Homo sapiens: one gene and its partner. The main gene of each other region encodes a partner of the protein of the gene in region 2 in a complex. Each region holds a gene or a part of one and is shown on either strand. Other genes may lie near its edges. The genes, in order: NCBP1 and NCBP3.

What was found.
Region 1: the proteins of NCBP3 (region 2) and NCBP1 are in contact, whole or in part, in a cryo-EM structure (PDB 8BY6), measured with the Homo sapiens proteins. Residues at the interface, in NP_001107590.1 of Homo sapiens: Glu572, Asp574, Glu576, Leu577, Gln578, Ala580, Trp581, Gly582, Leu584, Ile585, Lys588, Glu589, Arg592; in NP_002477.1 of Homo sapiens: Lys330, Ile377, Glu378, Cys380, Lys381, Pro384, Pro388, Gln389, Ala392, His420, Asn423, Phe424, Gln425, Arg427, Trp428, Ser429, Glu431, Asp432.

What each region holds. Positions count from the first base shown.
Region 1 is NC_000009.12:97,657,821-97,664,820, reverse strand, and holds part of NCBP1 (nuclear cap-binding protein subunit 1), read right to left. Parts: intron 6,182-7,000; coding exon 6,078-6,181; intron 3,876-6,077; coding exon 3,753-3,875; intron 2,780-3,752; coding exon 2,677-2,779; intron 1,868-2,676; coding exon 1,774-1,867; intron 482-1,773; coding exon 378-481; intron 1-377. UniProt on the Homo sapiens protein: Component of the cap-binding complex (CBC), which binds cotranscriptionally to the 5'-cap of pre-mRNAs and is involved in various processes such as pre-mRNA splicing, translation regulation, nonsense-mediated mRNA decay, RNA-mediated gene silencing (RNAi) by microRNAs (miRNAs) and mRNA export.
Region 2 is NC_000017.11:3,813,337-3,825,432, forward strand, and holds part of NCBP3 (nuclear cap-binding protein subunit 3), read right to left. Parts: intron 11,715-12,096; coding exon 11,606-11,714; intron 8,717-11,605; coding exon 8,617-8,716; intron 8,017-8,616; coding exon 7,913-8,016; intron 5,237-7,912; coding exon 4,927-5,236; intron 2,935-4,926; coding exon 2,780-2,934; intron 1,148-2,779; coding exon 986-1,147; intron 1-985. UniProt on the Homo sapiens protein: Associates with NCBP1/CBP80 to form an alternative cap-binding complex (CBC) which plays a key role in mRNA export. NCBP3 serves as adapter protein linking the capped RNAs (m7GpppG-capped RNA) to NCBP1/CBP80.

The DNA of each region.
Region 1 (7,000 bases), on a different chromosome or scaffold from region 2:
CTGGTGTGCATTCTAGGTGCCATCCCCACTGAAGCTGGAACCCTTCCCGAGTTCCATCTGGACTAGCTGAGACTCTGCACATAGCTGGCTCTTGCTAGTTTTCTCTCCCAACAGTCTGGATCCTTCAACAGGATTTCTACTTCACTGGCTTAGCCTTGATTCAACTTAAGAGTGTCCCTGCTAAGAGACGCTGCAACCTGATAGGCTGTGTATGTTTCCACTGTCTAGGAATTTTTGCCATGTCCAATCCTACCAGATTGGACCATTAGTATATTAATATCAACCTGGTTTGGACCAGAATTTGAAGCTTATGTATAAGAGACCACACATATATCAATTCTTAGGGAACACAAGTTTCATAAAATAATTTATATTACCTGGTAAAGTCACGAGATAGTTCTGAAGAGAAGATCCAATTTGCTACGGCAGCACAATCAACTATTTGTGTACGAATCATCTTATCCACTAGTACAGCAATCATCTACAATGAGAGAATTATTCAAGTAAATCACACACACACATACACACACATATATATGTGCCACCACACTGCTGCTATAAAAGTAAAATAGGAGGGCTATAAAATTTAGTTTTGGTGGCTATGGAATTGATTGATCAATCTGACCATTAGGTCTTTTTTTTGGGAGACAGAGTTGCTCTGTCACCTAGGCGGGAGTGGAGTGGCACGATCTCAGCTCACTGCAACCTCCACCTCCTAGGTTCAAGCAATTCTCCTGCCTCAACCTCCTGAGCAGCTCAGATTACAGGTGTGCACCACCATGCCTGGCTAATTTTTGTAATTTTAGTATAGACGGGGTTTCACTGTATTGCCTAGGCTGGTCTCGAACTCCTGGCTTCAAGTGATCCATCCATCTCGGCCTCCCAAAGTGCTAGGATTACAGGTAAGAGCCACCACGCCTGGCCTGATCATTAGGTCTTAAGATTTATTCTCCCCTTTGCTTTGCTCTAGCACTACAAGAAACAGGTTGACTAAACAAAAACTCTGAATGGTAACAGTTAAAATTTGAAAAAACTGGCCAGGCGCGGTGGCTCACACCTGTAATCTAGCACACTTTGGGAGGCCGAGGTGGGCAGATCACCTGAGGTCAGGAGTTCCAGACCAGCCTGGCCAACATGGTGAAACCCCATCTCTACTAAAAATACAAAAATCAGCCAGGTGTGGTGGTGGACGCCTGTAATCCCAGCTACTCGGGAGGCTGAGGCAGGGGAATCACTTGAACCCGGGAGGCGGAGGTTGCAGTGAGCCAAGATTGCGCCACTGCACTCCAGCCTGGGTGACAGAGTGAGACTCTGTCTCCAAAAAAAAATTTAAATTTCAGGTACTAATACGTATTCAAAAAAATACATAATTTCAATGAACCCCAGAAGTTAAATGTAAAACAATGTTTTATCATTACACACTCACTGTTTTATGAAATTTATTTAAATGTTTCTTTGTCATACACAATATATATCAAGGTTTGAGAAATCTGGAGCTTGCATTTAGAAACTGGATAGACTAGATAAACCTTTTCCTGAACATTTAAAACATATTGAGATATTATAGTTCAAAACCAAATCATAATAATGCTTACTCTTTCAAGAATGAATGAAACATCATTACTCCCATAGCACTGAAAGAATTAGATCTAAAAACCATTATCTAGGCAGAGTCAAATTTCATGTTTTACAAACAAAACAATGGCAATTAACGGCCTTATTTTTATACCCATACAATCAGAGCTTCAACATGTCTAATTAAATAATTTTTACCTGTGGATGGTTCCTCCAGACCTCAAACATAACTCTTAGCACATGTAACTTTCCTTCATCACTTTCAGCTAGGGTTTTGAAGACTTCATGAAACCTTTTGATAATGATGGGAAAAAAATACCATATATACTTATTCATTAAACATTTTAGTGTTTTCAAAGCCTTTTCAATGTTACTCAATTTATAATGCAATATATAAATGCAAAATAACTAAGTATTAACCATTAAGGATGCAAAAAGTGTGATCACAGATTGATAGTTTTTAAGGAAGCTGTCACAAAATCTCAAGACATTTACAATATACTACCGTTAGCCCAGGGCTACAGTTTAAAAGAATAGGTAAGGACTAAGGAACTGTCTTCAAACATGGTGAAATATTCAAACTGCATCTTCTGTGGGAACCCTGCAAGTAATATAAAGCCTTGGAGACAGAGATGGGGTGAGATGTCCAGTTTCTCTGCTTGGCAGAAGGAAAATCTATGTGCTCTTTCTTCCTTTGGACCCTGTCTGACAAGTTAAAAATACCTGTCTTCAGATGCCAACCTTTGCGTGACTCCCAACAGTGTAGCTGATTCTAATTTCTTCTTACATTGCTTTGGAAAGATATTTAGCGTGGGAACTTCCAACTGCATATGACTGTCCCAAAAACCTAGGTTTTTCACTAGTTTCTTTAAATGTCTATATGAAAAAAAGCACTTACCATGTACATATGCCAACTGTACAAACAGACTGACGGAAGCCTTAGGATATGGATTTCAGCTACCACAAACCCAAACCCACTGTGTCCAATTATACACTATTAAGATCTTCATATTCAACAATCTTAGGTAAAAATTACCATACCACTGGTGTTCACCAAGCAAAATTCCAAACTCTCAAGCAAGGCTCTGTACTCATACATACTTTGCAAGAGCACTGAAGGAGTGGCTGAATGATTTGGCTGCCAAGTGTAGCAGAGTCTGTACAAAGACTTCTATTTTCAATGGGTTAAAACTGAATCCTTCATCTGAAAAATATTTTATAGTAAAACAGAAAAATGTAAGCACAGCAATTCCTTGGTGCCTTACCTCAAATGCTAAATAGATGGTTGCTCACATCTATACACAGATATTTGTGTAATGTTTTTTGGTTCTAATAAACAATAAAAGACCGTCACTGATTTCAAACACTGAAAATATGAAACCACTTGTAATTTTAAGTCTTAGTTTTATGTGACTGTCTTAATTCTATCATCCATTCCTTGAAAAAAAAAAATCACACAGGTTTCCTTATTCATAGCCTCTATTATATTAATACCAAAAAAAAAAAAAAAAAACACTTAAGCTTATGTCTTAAGATGTCTGACAACATCTGAATTTAATGCCATCATTTTGGCTTATTCTTTCTAAACTCATTTTCTCTAATATCATAATACAAATTTCTTAGAGATATCCAAACAAAATCCCAGTAATAAATACCCAAAGGCCACTAATATCTTATTTTGATTCAGTAGTTTTTCTATGTGCATATCCATTTATTGATTCAGGCAACTGTATAAATTATTTTGTCAATTTTCCCACTCTTGCCCAGAAAAACTCCTAGGATTCTGGTTGGAATTACATGGTATATAACTGAGTAAATGTTAAACATTATTATTCTAATAGCTTAACTTGGAGAAAACATCCAACTTTATAACACACCAAGTCTTTCTATTCAGGAACTTCTCTATGGTGAAAGCAGGGGTTAAAAATCCTTGAATGGTAACATATTTCACTTTGTATTTACGATGAAGTTTATATTCTTAAGTAAGCTATATCACAGAAATGTTAGGATCTCTTTTTATATAAGGGGAAAATACCTGGGGTGCTAAGAACAACAGTCTGAACAGGTCAAACAGATATAGATATATTGCTTTAAGAGCATCATGTTGCCAGAGTTATGTTTATGCTTTAAGTTGGCCTATACATAGTTCCACTTAAGAAATACTGAATTCCACTTACCGTCGTCATCATCCTGGTTAGGATTTGGTACATCTTTCAGAATGCTGAAGATTTCATCATTGGTTGCCTTACTTTTAAAGGCAACAGCTAAACAGAGGGCAACAGAATGTCCAGGAAGAGAATCTAAACACAGAATTGGGGGTAAGGGGAATGACAGATCAGGTTTCAAGACTATTCTAATGAACAGTTAAATAACTGAGAAAAATTTTTTTTAAATTCTTCCTTTCAAAATAGGATGCTCTTTATCCCAAGGTCAATATTTAATCACATATAAATACCGTATGTGAAAGCTTTTTCTAATAGGTTAATGGTTTTTCACCTAAAAAGGGACAATTCTCATTTCAACAATTCATTAAGGACACTTAGCTAAGTAAAATTTAGAGCACAAGGTGCTGATCATCCTCAAGATGAATGGTAAGGAGAAAAGTGGACACAGTTAAACTGTCTTTTAATGCCCTCAACTCTCCTGGGCTCAAAATCCCAGAACCAACGTACTTCTCTTTCATTTTGCCAACACCCACTTCCTCTTTCTTTCCTCGGGACCGTGGAAATGAAGTCTGAGTCTCAACAAGGTAATGGCTGCCAACTTCAGAGAGGTTTTGTTTTTGTACTTTTCTTTTTTGCTGAGTCCACAAGCTTGAATCTACGTAAGTCAGATGCTCACGTGATGGGACTCCTTGTATTTACTATTGGTTGGTATCAGTTGAGTCCTTATTATAAAAATTTGTGCTAATATACACCGTAAGGCATCACCAGAGCAACAAGAAATCTGCTTTTAATGTAAGGTAGACAAAGAGGTAACAAAAAAGGCAATCCTGTTATAGAGTATGAGTTACTGGAATGAATAAAGTAAATTACAACAGTCATGTGAGGACAGTCATATTACACCTGCTGTGAGCTTTTTCTCTAAAAAAAAGAAGGCGAAGAAAAACAGAATCCCCTGTCACCAGTCTACATTCTAGCTGGGGAACCAAGATATTCACATTAGACACAGCCAGGAAGCAATACAAAACTGGCTTGCTAACGGTTAAAAAATATTTACAGCTATTGAGCTTGGGCTAGAATCTAGAAGGAGAAAAGGAAGTGGAGCTAGAAAGGGCTTTCCAGACTGGGGTAATGGCAAAGTCAAGAACAGGGAGTATGGAAAAAATAAAAAAGTACATGGACCTGGCAGAAATAGAGGTCCATGTGGGGAGAAGTGAAAAATAACAAAGTAGGAACAATGGTTATGAAGGCCTTGAATGTTAGGCGGAGTTATTCCTATGGGGCAAAAAGAAAGCTTAATCTTCAACAAAAGCCTGAGCTTTCTGATAGCAAAGACTACACCTTATCATTCTCGGAACCAGTACAGGACAAAACTCAAAACCCAGCACTTCTAAGTACTGCATAAACCTTTGATCTGCCAAAAAGCACAGTGGCTAACAGCATGGCCACTCAGTTAGTGCACCTACGCCTGAATTTGGGCTCCACCACTCAAAAGCAATCTCATTCTAGCTTGACCTCTTGGAAGTCATTTCCTCATTGTAGTTTTGATAATCATATCTATTCTTCAGAGTTGACATAATGAAATAGGAAATGTACCAGGACCGACACAGTTCATTTCAAGGAAAACAGGTACAGTCAGAGACAGAGGTGGAGAAACAGGCACACAGTATGAAAAGCAAAGAACAGCAGAAAGTTGTGAGATACAAAGAACCTCTACACAACACAAAATGGAAGGATCATGGAGGGGCTGTGTTAAGTGTAATCTGCAAAGAACAAGTTGGAAAAACTCCACACCTAACTCTACCAGTGATCAACAATGTATAATACTTTACCTTCATTAAGTGTAAATACTATGCAAAGGGCAAAATGGCACATCAAATTACACTCCCTGATTTATGGTGCAATTTCAGAGATTATGTGACCAAAAGGTAAGAAAATCATAATTAAGAATTTACTTTTAAAGGCATACTGCCACAAATATGTGCATCTATGTTCTCAATACCACACCTGAACAAGATAATGAATTCAAGTAACCTCCATCACCATGACAAATACACGTTTTCAGTTTAGTAAGTTCTAACTATAAATTCATCTTGCTATACTTAACACATTCAAAAGAGAAAAAATGATAAGCCAGTAGTAATTAATTTTATCACAACCAAATCCTCAAAATGATGACAGGGCAAATAAAACAGTGGCTAATGATAGACCACCTTTCAAATACAGGAAATATAAACCCCAAGAAAAGAAAAAGTTCAATTTCTCCACTTTAAACAACTAACTTCAGATATACTTGAACTGGTACCTTTTAAAGACAGAGGGATTAGTTTCATTACTTACTGCTACTTTCATCTCCATACTTGTAAATGCAGGTTGGGTTTGCAGGACACAGAGCTGAGAAGGTAGGAGGAACAATATCTAATATACGCTGATGGTAAGACAACCTACAATACAAATAACAGCCTCAGAAAATATCTTTTATCAGTCCCATTCTTCGGTAACACCCGACTTACCTGGAAAGTCATGATCTCCAACAACTTGAACTCAGCTGACAACCAAGAAGTGAAAGGGAAAAAAAAATCCTTTGAGTTTTTGTCTAAGCCAGCACACCAAATCTCAGGCATACTGCAAAACTCACTGGCTTGCACTGAGGTGCGGGTGAGTGAGCTCATGAGCCTGGTGGCCAAGTATGTGGGGTGATGATGGGGCATGGTGGAGATGACTGCACGCTTTGGAAACTGGCTATATTCTATCAAATAAATAAATATTGAGGATAATGGAAGCCAAGTTTGTTACTGCCTGAGAAGGTGTTTACAAATCATGGTAGAGAAGAAGTGTAGAAATAAGGTATTGAGTTGGAATTGGAGGCATATATACACACAGGTGGACATAAAAACAGTTATGGATGGATGGATGTGTGTCCACCAAGAGGCTTAGAACCAATGACACCCCAATGGCAATGAGCATATCAAGTGCCCAGATCTTGGCTCCTAAATACCATATTCCATTACTACTTTACTAGAAACTAGGGCTCCATGAATAAATAGATGATTCCAGTGATAGGGCAAGAAAACGCAAGATGATCCTAAATATGTTGTTCTAGAAAATAAGGGAATGCTCAATGAATGGCTGGGGACGTTAAAAAAAAAAAAAAAAATATATATATATATATATATAGAGAGAGAGAGAGAGAGAGAGCTTACCGGGGCTCCTCATGTACATACCAGGGACAATTTGGGCATCAAAATAAATAATCCTCATAG
Region 2 (12,096 bases):
CTGAGGGGGCAGCAGCACTGCCAACACCTGCTGTGCAGGAAACGCCAGCAGTCTGTGGAGCCTGCCACCACAGTGCAGCCTTGGGCAGGCAAAATCTCATTTCCCGGGCCGCAGCCCCTGCCCGCAAACGGAAGGGTCTGGACCCAGCACGGGATTCTCACCGTGGGGGGACAGGTCAGGTCCCTCCCTGTCACCAGACACATCAGAATCACCTGAGAGGCCGTTTCCTCCTACTCCTGCCCTTCCCTGCTGAGACACCACCCTGTGTGCCAATCCATTCTGCCAGAAGTAGGCCACTCCCAGATCCCTTCCATTAATTTTTGAAATATATTTTATGAAAATTTAACAATAGAGAAATACGTGTTTAGAATTTTGTAGACGGCCACATTATAAGGCAATTCAAAGTTGTTTTTGTTTTTGTTTTTGAGACAAGGTCTTGCTGTTGCCCAGGCTGAAGTGCAGTGGTGCAGGCGCCCACCACCACGCCCGGCTCATTTTTGTGTTTTTAGTAGAGACAGGGTTTCACCATGTTGGTTAGGCTGGTCTCGAACTCCTGACCTCAAGTGATCCCCCCGTCTCGGCCTCCCAAATTGCTGGGATTACAGGTGTTGAGCCGCTATGCCTGGCCTAAAAGTTTTATTTATAAAGATTATAAAATGTGGCAAACAACTACGATAAAATGCTGTATGAAAAAACTAGGATTTGTATGTGGGCAAAGACCAGAATAGCTCACATGAAACTAAAAAGATTTGTGCCAAACAGAAAGAGCCAGGAGTGTGCTATTTTTTTCTATTTTCTAAGCGTTCCTAACTGTTGGGATGATGCTGATGCTGATGCTGACGATAACTATAATGGAAAAGGAATAATCACTTATATTTGGCGTGGGCTGTTTCTTGCCTTCTGCTAAGAAAGTATTTCTCCAATACACCCACTGTCCTCTGCTCTCACTGAATCCCCATTCCCATCCGTTTTAAGTGTTACCAACCTGATTTCTTCTCCCGAGTATCGGCGTAGAGGCCTTTACTATCCTGCCTGGGAACACCTAGCCTACTATGCACATCAGAAGAGGGCTCTCTCCGAACGACGGGGTTACTACTAAAAGCCTTTTCCGGAGAATGTGGTCTTTTTCCTAACCGCTGGCGTATATCTGAAAAAAGAGAAAAAGTGCACCAGTGACCGTGTGTGTGCTTTATGCTCGGCACCAGCCGCCTGACACCTCTAACGGATCTGGCGCTAACCCCTGCCCCGAGGACACAGGGCCTGACAATCAGGCTGCTAAGTATTCTTCCTTTGTAATCAGTCTGGATTTCCTTAGGAAAATTCGGACATAGGGGCTGTCAGAGGAAAAATCCTCAACTGATTACTCCAGAACTATATTTCTGAAGAAACAACCTTTTTTTTTTTTTCTTTAAGCAGAATCAAGAAGACTAAGTAATTTACAAAAGTTTCAGCGAACAAAAAATCCTGTGAGCTCCTGGAAAGTGGAAGGCACAATCTTTGAACATACAAGTAGTTCCCAATAAACTTATTACATTTAACCAGTAAATATAAAGAGACTGGAAAAGGCAAAGGATCAAATGTGTTTTTCCCTCAATCCCCCCAGAAATCGGCCTGTCCTCTTGAGTTCCCCCTAACCACCACAGCAACAACAGAAACACATTCGTTGGTGAGGCCCTGTGCCGAGGTCTCCTCTCACTTTAGCTTCTCTCAGAGAGCAGCACCCTGGTCTCTGGTCACTGAGACCTGAGCTCCTTTCCTCCAACACTTCCTAGCACTGAGTCTTCCTTCACAAGACTATCCTGTTCTTTATCCATTCTGTCTCCACCGACCTAGTTCAGGCTCTTGTTACTTTTTTAACTCTCTACCCCACCCCACTCCACCCTCAAGTTGTCTTTCTAAAATAGATGTAAGATCAGGTTACTTCTCATGTAAAAAAATCAGGTTTGCCAACAGAGATCCTACCCTCTCCAAGGCCTGGCTCTAATGCTACTTTCTCTAAGAAGTCTTTCACAACTTCCCGAGTAGATCTATGACGGCTCTGCGTCCCCTCCAAAGGCTTCTCACATTCCTAGCACCTAGACCAGGGTCTGGCACATAGCAGGTACGGCTAAAGACCTGCTGAATCAGTGTTTGAACATAGAAATTATCTAGTTCAAACTCTTAACTGTTCAGACAACCACCGAACTTAATTTCTATTATTCTTGTATATAAAGTATACCAGTGTCATACAGAGGAAAATATGGTTGGCCCTCCTCATCCATGGATTCCACATCTATAGATTCAACCAACTGCTGATCGAATACATGTGGAAAAAAAGTAAGACATAAGAGTACAGCAAAAAATAATACAAATTTTACACAACACAGGATAAGAATTTATACCGTATTAGGTATTGTAAATAATCTAGAGATGACTTAAAGTATATGAGAGGATGTGTGTAGGTTATATGCAGATAATATGTCACTTTATATAAGGGACTTAAGCATCAATGGATTTTGGTATCTGTAGGGGGCGGGGAGGGGGTCCTGGAAGCAAGCCCCCAGACATACCAAGGAACAACTGTAATTATTTGGAATAAAAACATTTAAAGCTAGTTTTTCAGAAGTCTGATTATTTTTCATTTCCTCAATTTCCAACACCTAGCCCACAATTTAGACATGATGAACCAGGACAGCTAAATCAGTTCACACATCGCATGTTTTACTCAGGAACCTCTCTCTGCCCCAGTCTGCTTTCCGGAGCTCAGAATCCAGCCAGGAATCCAAGTGAGGAACAGTACCTGATTTAGTACTGCTGACTGGTGGCCGTGGACGGGAGTGCTGACGTTTCTCATCTAATAGATGTCGGACATCTGCAAATTTCTCAGGTGGTAATTTGTTACCAATTCGGTTTTTGATATTGCTTGAAGATACACTATCTGCCCTCATGGAGTTCCTTTAAAAAGGGGGTAGGATGGGGCACAGTTAACCAACTTCAACTGTGAGACAAGACCCAAACAACAATCTCATACTTTGGAGGAAACAATTTAAGAAATCCTGTCTTACATGGCCAACATTCACTTACAAATCCATAAACTTATAATTATTTGCTTATGGAAACCATGATCTGCCTGCTCTAAAGAGACTGGTTCTGGTGAGCAGGTTTTCGAAGGTGGTTTCCACATGTGTATGTGCTATTACACAGCATACAACTACAAGTCCCCCTTTTCTGGGACAAACGTTAAGTAGAGGCCTACAAAGAGATTGGGGCTTCCACTTACACATGCTGTGATGTGGCTGTAGTCAACACACAGTATAGTCTACAGTCTCTCTCTTTAAAGGGCAGACTTCTCTTTCAAAGAGATATGCTATCATGCTAGGTGCCAGCACCGTTCCGGCAGCATTCTCTACCAGAAAGCTCTCTGAAAACCAAAAATAAGAATGTGAACAGGCTCATGCCTGTAATCCCAGCACTTTGGGAAGCTGAGGCGGGCGGATCACGAGGTCAGGAGATCGAGACCATCCTGGCTAACATGGTGAAACCCAGTCTCTACTAAAAATACAAAAAATTAGCTGGGCGTGGTGGCCTGTACTCCCAGCTCCCCGGGAGGCTGAGGCAGGAAAATGCTGTGAACCCAGAAGGCGGAGCTTGCAGTGAGCCGAGATCGTGTTATCGCTCCACTGCACTCCAGGCTGGGCGACAGAGCGAGACTCCGTCTCAAAAAAAAAAAGAACGTGGTGAACAAGGCCATACAAACAAATCAGCTTGAATGGTCTTTTCCCCTCCCCACAAACATACTACGTTACACAGAGCATCCCTAGACTCTAACCCTTAGAACTGTGGATTCTGCCTGCACAGAATCTGCTCACCCCTAGTAGTAATCAAAGACATGCACATTAAAATAACTATTTTTTTTTTGTTCATGAAACTAGCTAGCATTAGAAAGAATGGTAATAGCTAAGGCTGGTGAGCTTGTAGGTAACAGGTGGTAATGTGAGTGATTAAAACCCTTCTGGGATTAAAACCCTTCTGAGCCCGGGCATGGTGGCTCATGCCTGTAATCCCAGCACTTTGGGAGGCTGAGGCAGGTGGATCACGAGGTCAGGAGATTGAGACCATCCTGGCCAACATGCTGAAACCCGTCTCTACTAAAATTACAAAAAATTAGCCAGGAGTAGTGGCAGGCGCCTGTAGTCCCAGCTACTCGGGAGGCTGAGGCAGGAGAATGGCGTGAACCTGGGAGGCGGAGTTTGCAGTGAGCCGAGATCGCGCCACTGCACTCCAGCCTGGGTGACAGAGCGAGACTCCGTCTCAAAAAAAAAATAAAAACACACAAAAAACCCTTCTGGAAAAAAATAAAGCAATACTTACCATCTTTTTAAACACATATTGTTTTGTGTAATAACTGGACTTTGAGGAATTTATTGAGTTAGTGCAATTGTAAGAAAATAGAAACCTAAAGTCCATCAAAAAGGAATTCGTTAAATAAATCATGATACTTTCAAACAACAGACTATATACAGTTGAAAAAAATAATGTCTACAATATATTAAGTGAAAAATGCACAATGCAAAACTATAAATAGCATAACCTCATCTTTATAAAAAGTATACTTTTATACAAATATATCTACAGCTTTTCCCTGTGCCATACACACACACACACACACACACACAAATAGCTGAAAGGTTATTCGCCAAATTGCTAACAGTAGTTATTGTTGAGAAAGAATGGGAATACAGATGATTTTCACTTTCTATGTTGTCTTTTGTTTTTATAACAAGAATCACTGCTTGTATAGAGGAAATACTGGATGCGTTTATTAAACTCCTACAAGGGACTGAAATCAGAATAGATAAAAGATATTATAAAATTAGGAGGAATTAAGAAGTTATACTAGTATTTAAAATCAAATTAAAAGCTAGCTTTGATAAAACAAATTTTTACCTAATATTTTTCAACTGAGATTCCACTTCGTCAGCATACATAGTCATTTTCATGCTTTTCTTTGGTGAAGGCGTGGAAATCATTTTCAGTTCTAGATCATAGTCCATTTCATCTGAGTCTGAGCTGCTGGCACTGGATCGTCTAGACGCGCTCCGCTCCCGGGGCTGCTTGAGAGCCGGGAGCTCCTCGTGGTACTCTACCACCACTCTGTCATCTGCATCCATGTCCTGGTCTTCTTCTTCCTCTTCCTCTTCCTCCTCCTCCTCCTCTTCCTCCTCTTCAATGGGTTCCTCGGGAACATTCACTAGCCCTGAAGAAATTTAACCAGAAAACATTAGGAAAAGCACTAAAATTAACAAGTATGATTTTCTACTCTACATCGGTGACCTTTTTAAAAGGTGGGGTTCCCATCCCTGACATTTTATTGGAGCACTATCTATAATAGTGCCAAATGGACATTACTCTGATACTGCAACAGGAGGATGGCTAGGTAAAGTATGATGCAGCAGCCTAACCAAATACCATAAAGTCATTTAAAATACAACTGACCTTTATTATTCACAGATTTTGTATTTGCAAATTTACCAAATTTATTTGTAACTCCAAAATGAATACGTGCAATGCTTCCATGGTCATTTGCTGGCACGCACAGAGTGGCAAAAAAATCTGAGTCACCAGGCACACACACTCCCAGTGGAGGTCAAACAAAGCAACACTCCACCTTCCTGTTTCATCTCATGCTGTAAACAAGCGTCTGTTTCAGTCCACCGAGTGGCACATTTTTCACACTTCTGTGCCTGCTGCTAGTGATTTCACTGCTTAAAATGGCCCTGAGTGTCGTGCCGAAGTGCTGCCTAGTGTTCCTAGATGCAAGGGGGCTGTGATGTGCCTTGTGGAAAAATACCATATCAGGTAAGGCATTCAGGCATGAGTTATAGGGCTACTGGCTGTGAACTCAATGTTAACGAATCAACAATGTGTCTTAAATAAGGTGTCTTAAAGAGAAACATATGGGCCCAGCGCGGTGGCTCACGCCTGTAATCCCAGCACTTTGGGAGGCCGAGGTGGGCAGATCACGAGGTCAGGAAATCGAGACCATCCTGGCTAACATGCTAATACCCTGTCTCTACTAAAAAATACAACAAAAATTAGCCGGGCATGGTGGTGTGCGCTTGTAGTCCCAGCTACTCGGGAGGCTGAGGTAGGAGAATGGCGTGAACCCGGGAGGCGGAGGTTGCAGTGAGCCGAGATCGCGCCACTGCACTCCAGCCTGGGCAACAGAGCAAGACTCTGTCTCAAAAAAAAAAAAAAGAGAGAAACATATGTAAAACAAGGTTACATATTGATCAACTGACAAAAATGATGTGGCCAGAGGCTATGTACGATTCAGTATTTGCTACTTCAGTGTTCACAGTGACTTTATAGAACATAAGCACCATGAATAATGAAAATGGAAAAATACAATAAACGAAAGAAGTAGAATATAAAGTACATGTTCCCAAGAGTTATACTATTTATTATGAAAACAAATGGGAAAAATGTAAGATGAACTCAGTCATCATACAGGGTACTAGAAATAGGGGCAATTTGCTTTTTAATTTCCTTAATATGGATATAAAAAGTATATGATGAAAATATTTTAAAGTAACTCAAATTGGAAAAGTGTAACTGTGTAACAGTAAAGTATGTGTATTATTATTATTATTTTGAGACAAAGTCTTGCTCTGTCGCCCAGGTTGGAATACAGTGGCACAATCTTGGCTCACTGCAGCCTTGACCTTCCAGGCTCAGGCAATCTCAGCCTCCCAAGTAGCTGGGACCACAGGTATGTGCCATCATGCCTGGTCTGGCTAATTTTTTAATTTTTTGTAACGACAAGGTCTCACTATGTTGCCCAGGCTGGTCTCAAACTCCTGGTTTCAAGTGATCCTCCTGCCTTGGCCTCCCAAAGTGCTGGGATTATAGGTGTGAGCCACTGTTCCCATCCTATGTGTATTATTAACATGTAGATCTCAAATATACAATTTTGTATATACACATTAAATAAAACATCTAGACTTCATCCCTTTCTGTCCCCATTACAATGATAAATGTGTGTATATGTTATTTTGTATGCTGACTTGACTAGTTCTATTAGGCATGTAGAAGATTCCATAGATTAGGCTCAAAACAAGAACAATTCTTTATAAAACATAAATAAAATGGTTCTTTTACAATAAGCACCAAAAAAAGGAGAAAGAAACCCAAGTCATGATATCCCACTCTTCTGAGGCATTCACATGCACAAACCAACAAGCACAAAGCACTCAACACAGCAGCCTATTTTTAATACAGAAAAAGAACAATACAATCAGTTCATCTGATAAAATAATTTCAAAAATTGTTTTTGGCTAGGCGCGGTAGCTCACACCTGTAATCCCAGCACTCTGGGAGGCCAAAGTGGGTGGAACACAAGGTCAGGAGTTCGAGACCAGCCTGGCCAACATGGTGAAACCCCATCTCTACTAAAAATACAAAAGTTAGCTGGGCATGGTGGCGCATGCCTGTAGTCCCAGCTACTCGGGAGGCTAAGGCAGGAGAATTGCTTGAATCCAGGAGGCAGAGTTGCAGTGAGCCGAGATCAAGCAATTGCACTCCAGCCTGAGAGACAGAGCGAGACTCCGTCTTAAAAAAAAAAAAAAAATTGTTTTCATGCAGCTGTTGATATTAATAGTAGAAAAATTAGGATCCTAAGGAAAGTTTTGTTTTAATTTTTCCTATGTCATATTTTGCCTTTTTTGATAGAACAGCTTTTATAAAATCATTTGACCTCTTTGGGCAACTTAAAATTAATTGTGACTTGACTTACTTTCCTATATGTTGGCAGAGGGTGAGGGCAAGGAAGAGAGGATGATAAAGTTTGGAACCTTAAAAGATTGCATTAAGAATAAAAATATGATTTCAGGAGCCAAACATGTGTCTACCCAAGAGCTGAGCAGGCAACTACCAGAATGTCGATGTTTATACGACGTCAAGCCAACGTCATCCCCAATCAGGGCTCTCTTCTTGATCACGTCCCGCTGAATACGACGGGAATGATATCTTCGCTTCCTGCAAGAATGCCAAAATAAGCACACAATCAAAAACTGATAGGAAGGACCTTGAAATCCACTATTTCTTTCTCTTTTCTTTTTTTTTTGTGATGGAGTCTCAATCTCTCTCCCAGGCTGAAGTGCAATGGCACCATCTCAGCTCACTGCAACCTTTGCCTCTTGGGTTCAAGCAATTCTCCTGCCTCAGCCTCCCGAGTAGGTGGGATTACAGGCGCCCACCACCATGCATGGCTAATTTTTGTATTTTTAGTAGAGACGGGGTTTCACCATGTTGGCCAGGCTGGTCTCGAACTCCTGACCTCAGGTGATCTGCTGGCCTCGGCCTCCCAAAGTGCTGGGATTACAGGCGTGAGCCACCATGTCTGGGCTCGCTAATTCATTTCAACTACACGTTGACACAATGTTAGGTACTAACACAGATATTTTAAATGTAACTACAATTCAGCATTCCCCATCATTTACCACATCTAAGAATCTTGAATTCTTCCCTCTTGTTTTCCTTCCAGTTTACACAGGGTTTAGACATTTCACCACGGAATACCAACTGAAGGATTAAGAAAAACTCAAATACTATTGCATTTGAAGGTTTTGGACTCACCATGAATTGCTAAGAATTCCTTTCATGCCTCCATAATTTGGATTCCCATATTTCATGTAATACTGACTTCTTCTGGCTGCTCCAAGTTCCTTTTTGTCATCTAAAAATTAATGACAATAGTTACCTAGGATTTCCTGTGAGTGTAAAGACAATGTTGAATTTTTTTTTTAATGTTTTCCATAGCTGGAATCAGATCAGCGCAATTTGCCAACAAAAAGTAAAAATCCACTACCAACATTCACACTCTGAGTGCCCACTACAGCAATGCAGTGTAGAGGGGATAAAGCAAAATACAGAGACGAATGAGGTTAAAACTGCTGTTTGGAGCCAGATGACTTAATGGAGAAAACAAAAATAAACAATACAAGATACAAGGTTCCAAAAGGCATAAAAGAGCTTTAGGTCATTACAGGTACCCAGGAATCAAAAAGACTTTCTCAAAATAGTGGCATTTTTGCCACCCCATGAAAGATGATATTCACTTCTGAAGGATCACATGCCAACAACACAGCATCAGGATTAAGGAAACAGACTACATATAATTCCATATATTTGGTAAATCATTTTTCCAGTTTATTGTGCTCCTCAAAATGGCTTAAAGAAAACAGCATAATACTATACATGTAGAATGTACTCAGCCACTCAAATGAGTAAATGTGGTAAAGATCACATTTGTCAAGTTGAAATGTCAGTTAACAGGAAAGAAAGGTGGTCAGTCATCATAAATTTTTGTCAAAAGTAGTAATACAAAGACCTTCCACAGTTCTTGGACACTCTGACTGTAAAGAACAAACACCACTGTAAATATATCCAGGGCTGTAGGTAAACGTGACAACACAAACCAGTATGTATAGCCCCCAACCCCCGAACCCCTCAAACCATGCCCACCAGCTCCTTGGAGAAATGGCTGATTCCAGATGTGGAGCAGGTAAGATGCAAAATGAGTCTGGAAAAGCAAGATGTTTTGTTGTGCCATAAAGAAAGAAAGTGCTTAAAGAATCATGGAGTATGTCAAAACAGCTTGAAGGGGCTCTACTGGCCAAATCCAAGACAATTTGTAAATTAAAATACTGATATTAGGCTGGGCGCGATGGCTCACGCCTGTAATCCCAGTACTTTGGGAGGCTGAGGCGGGCGGATCACAAGGTCAAGAGATCGAGACCATCCTGGCCAACATGGTGAACCCCATCTCTACTAAAAATACAAAAATTAGCTGGGCATGGTGGCATGCACCTGTAGTCCCAGCTACTAGGGAAGCTGAGACAGGAGAATTGCTTGAACCCAGGAGGCAGAGGTTGCAGGGAGGCAGAGGTTGCAGGGAGGCAGCGGTTGCAGTGAGCCAAGATCGCGCCACTGCACTCCAGCCTGGTGACAGAGCAACACTCCGTCTCAAAACAAACAAAAAAATAAATAAAATTAAATACTGATATCCATGGATGATAACCCACTGAATAAAGAATCCATGATTCTAAACTGATGTAAATAAACAAACAGGTAAAAACAGAAGGCTCTTCCTTAGAGCACCTGTCTACTGGTAAAGAAATGACATAGTCAGAAAGGCATGAAGCTCTGATGAGCAAGAGGCTATTTACGTGATCTCAAAGTATCTGCCCACCAATTTTTTATTTTAATCATTTTTTTATTTTTTAAAATAGGGATGAGGTCTTGCTATGTTGCCTAGCCTGGTCTCGAACTCCTGGGCTCAAGTGATCCTTCTGCCTCAGCATCCCAAAGTGTTGCAATTACAGGCACGAGCCACTGTAACCAGCCAGCCCACCAATTTTTAAATTACAAATGGAAGAATAGCAACTTTACAGTGGAAAAACCTAGTGATGATTACCTTAACCAAGTGAATAAAGTGAACGTCCCTAGGACTGGGACGAGTAAGTATCCAGGGCCTCCTGACATGATGCTCTGGAAATGACATGACATCGCTTCTGTGGCACGCCTGTCTCAAATGCACAACCCAAATTCAATCAGGAGGAATCATCAGACAAACCCAAACTGAGGGACATTGTATAAAATAGTAAACCTATATTCTTGGAAAACATGGGAGGATAGAAGTAGTTTCAGCTTAAGGGGGACTAAGGAAACATTACATACTTACACACTCAGTCCTGGATGGATCCTAGACCTGGGGCTGGGCGGGGAATATATAAAGGACATTATTGGAACAACTGACAAAATTTGAAAATCGACTACGGATTAGGTAACAGTACTGTATTAATGTTAAATTTCTTGATTTTGTTAAGTGTGCTATGTATAAAACAATGTTCTTATTCTTTGGAATACATTTAGGGGTGATGGGTTTTTATCTTCAACTAACTCTCAAATGATTAAAAAAACCAATATGTGTATATGTGTATAATACATATACATACATACATACATACACACACACATACACACACACATACACATACACACACATATACATACACACACATACATATATACACATACACATACATACATATACATACATACACATGCATACATACACACATACACGCGATACATACATACATATACATATATACACATACATACACATACATATATACACATACACACACATTTTTAAATGCCCACCAAAAGTCACCATGTGTAAACAATCTTATGAGAAGGGAATTAGAACCGAATGGTACACTGGCAATGTTCAGGAGGACGTTGCTGTAATAAATAAAGTTTCATTTGAAAGTTTTCATAATTCAGATGGTAACTGGCTGAAAATATATGAGGCAAACCAGTTTCAACAGAAAATAACTTTAGCCAGAAGTCACAGAAATATACAAATAGTTAATATTCACTTTTAAAGTCAGAAATTCCAACTCAGGTGGCAAGCAATTATTTCATAAGCGCAGAATATTATAGTTTGAAGGGAACTTTGAGATTACTTGATCTAACTTCTATTCAAAAAAGAAGGATGTCACTCCATAATAAATCATTTTGATTGAAAATATAAAACAATACCAAATATTACATTTACCTTTTGTAGCAAATCTCATGAATAACCTATTTCCTTTAGCAAGTTTGTTAGCTGGACGAAGATCGTTTCTTAACAAAGACTCCTCTTCTACCTGAGACAACGTATCCAACTTAAGAAAGAAGAGTATTTTTAATATAAAAATTAAAGTCCTTTTGATATTTCTTCAGTAGTAAAGCTACCATTAAGAAAAGCATTCTACCTTTAATACTTACAAGCATTATAGCACTAGTTCCGCTGTAGAATTTCTAACTCAGAGATTTCCCCTGCCCACCTTGTCTAAAAGAACAGTCTCCATCATTCTCTATCCCCTACTCTTTTCACAACACTCATTGCCACCTGACACAGTATGAGATATCTGTGCATCAGTGTATCCTCTGCACTCCCCACTAGAATGCAGGCTCCGAGAGGGCCAGGACTTTGTTTTGCTTGAAGCTATATCCCTAGCACTTAGAATATGGTATATAATAGGTACTCAGTAAATATTTTTTAAA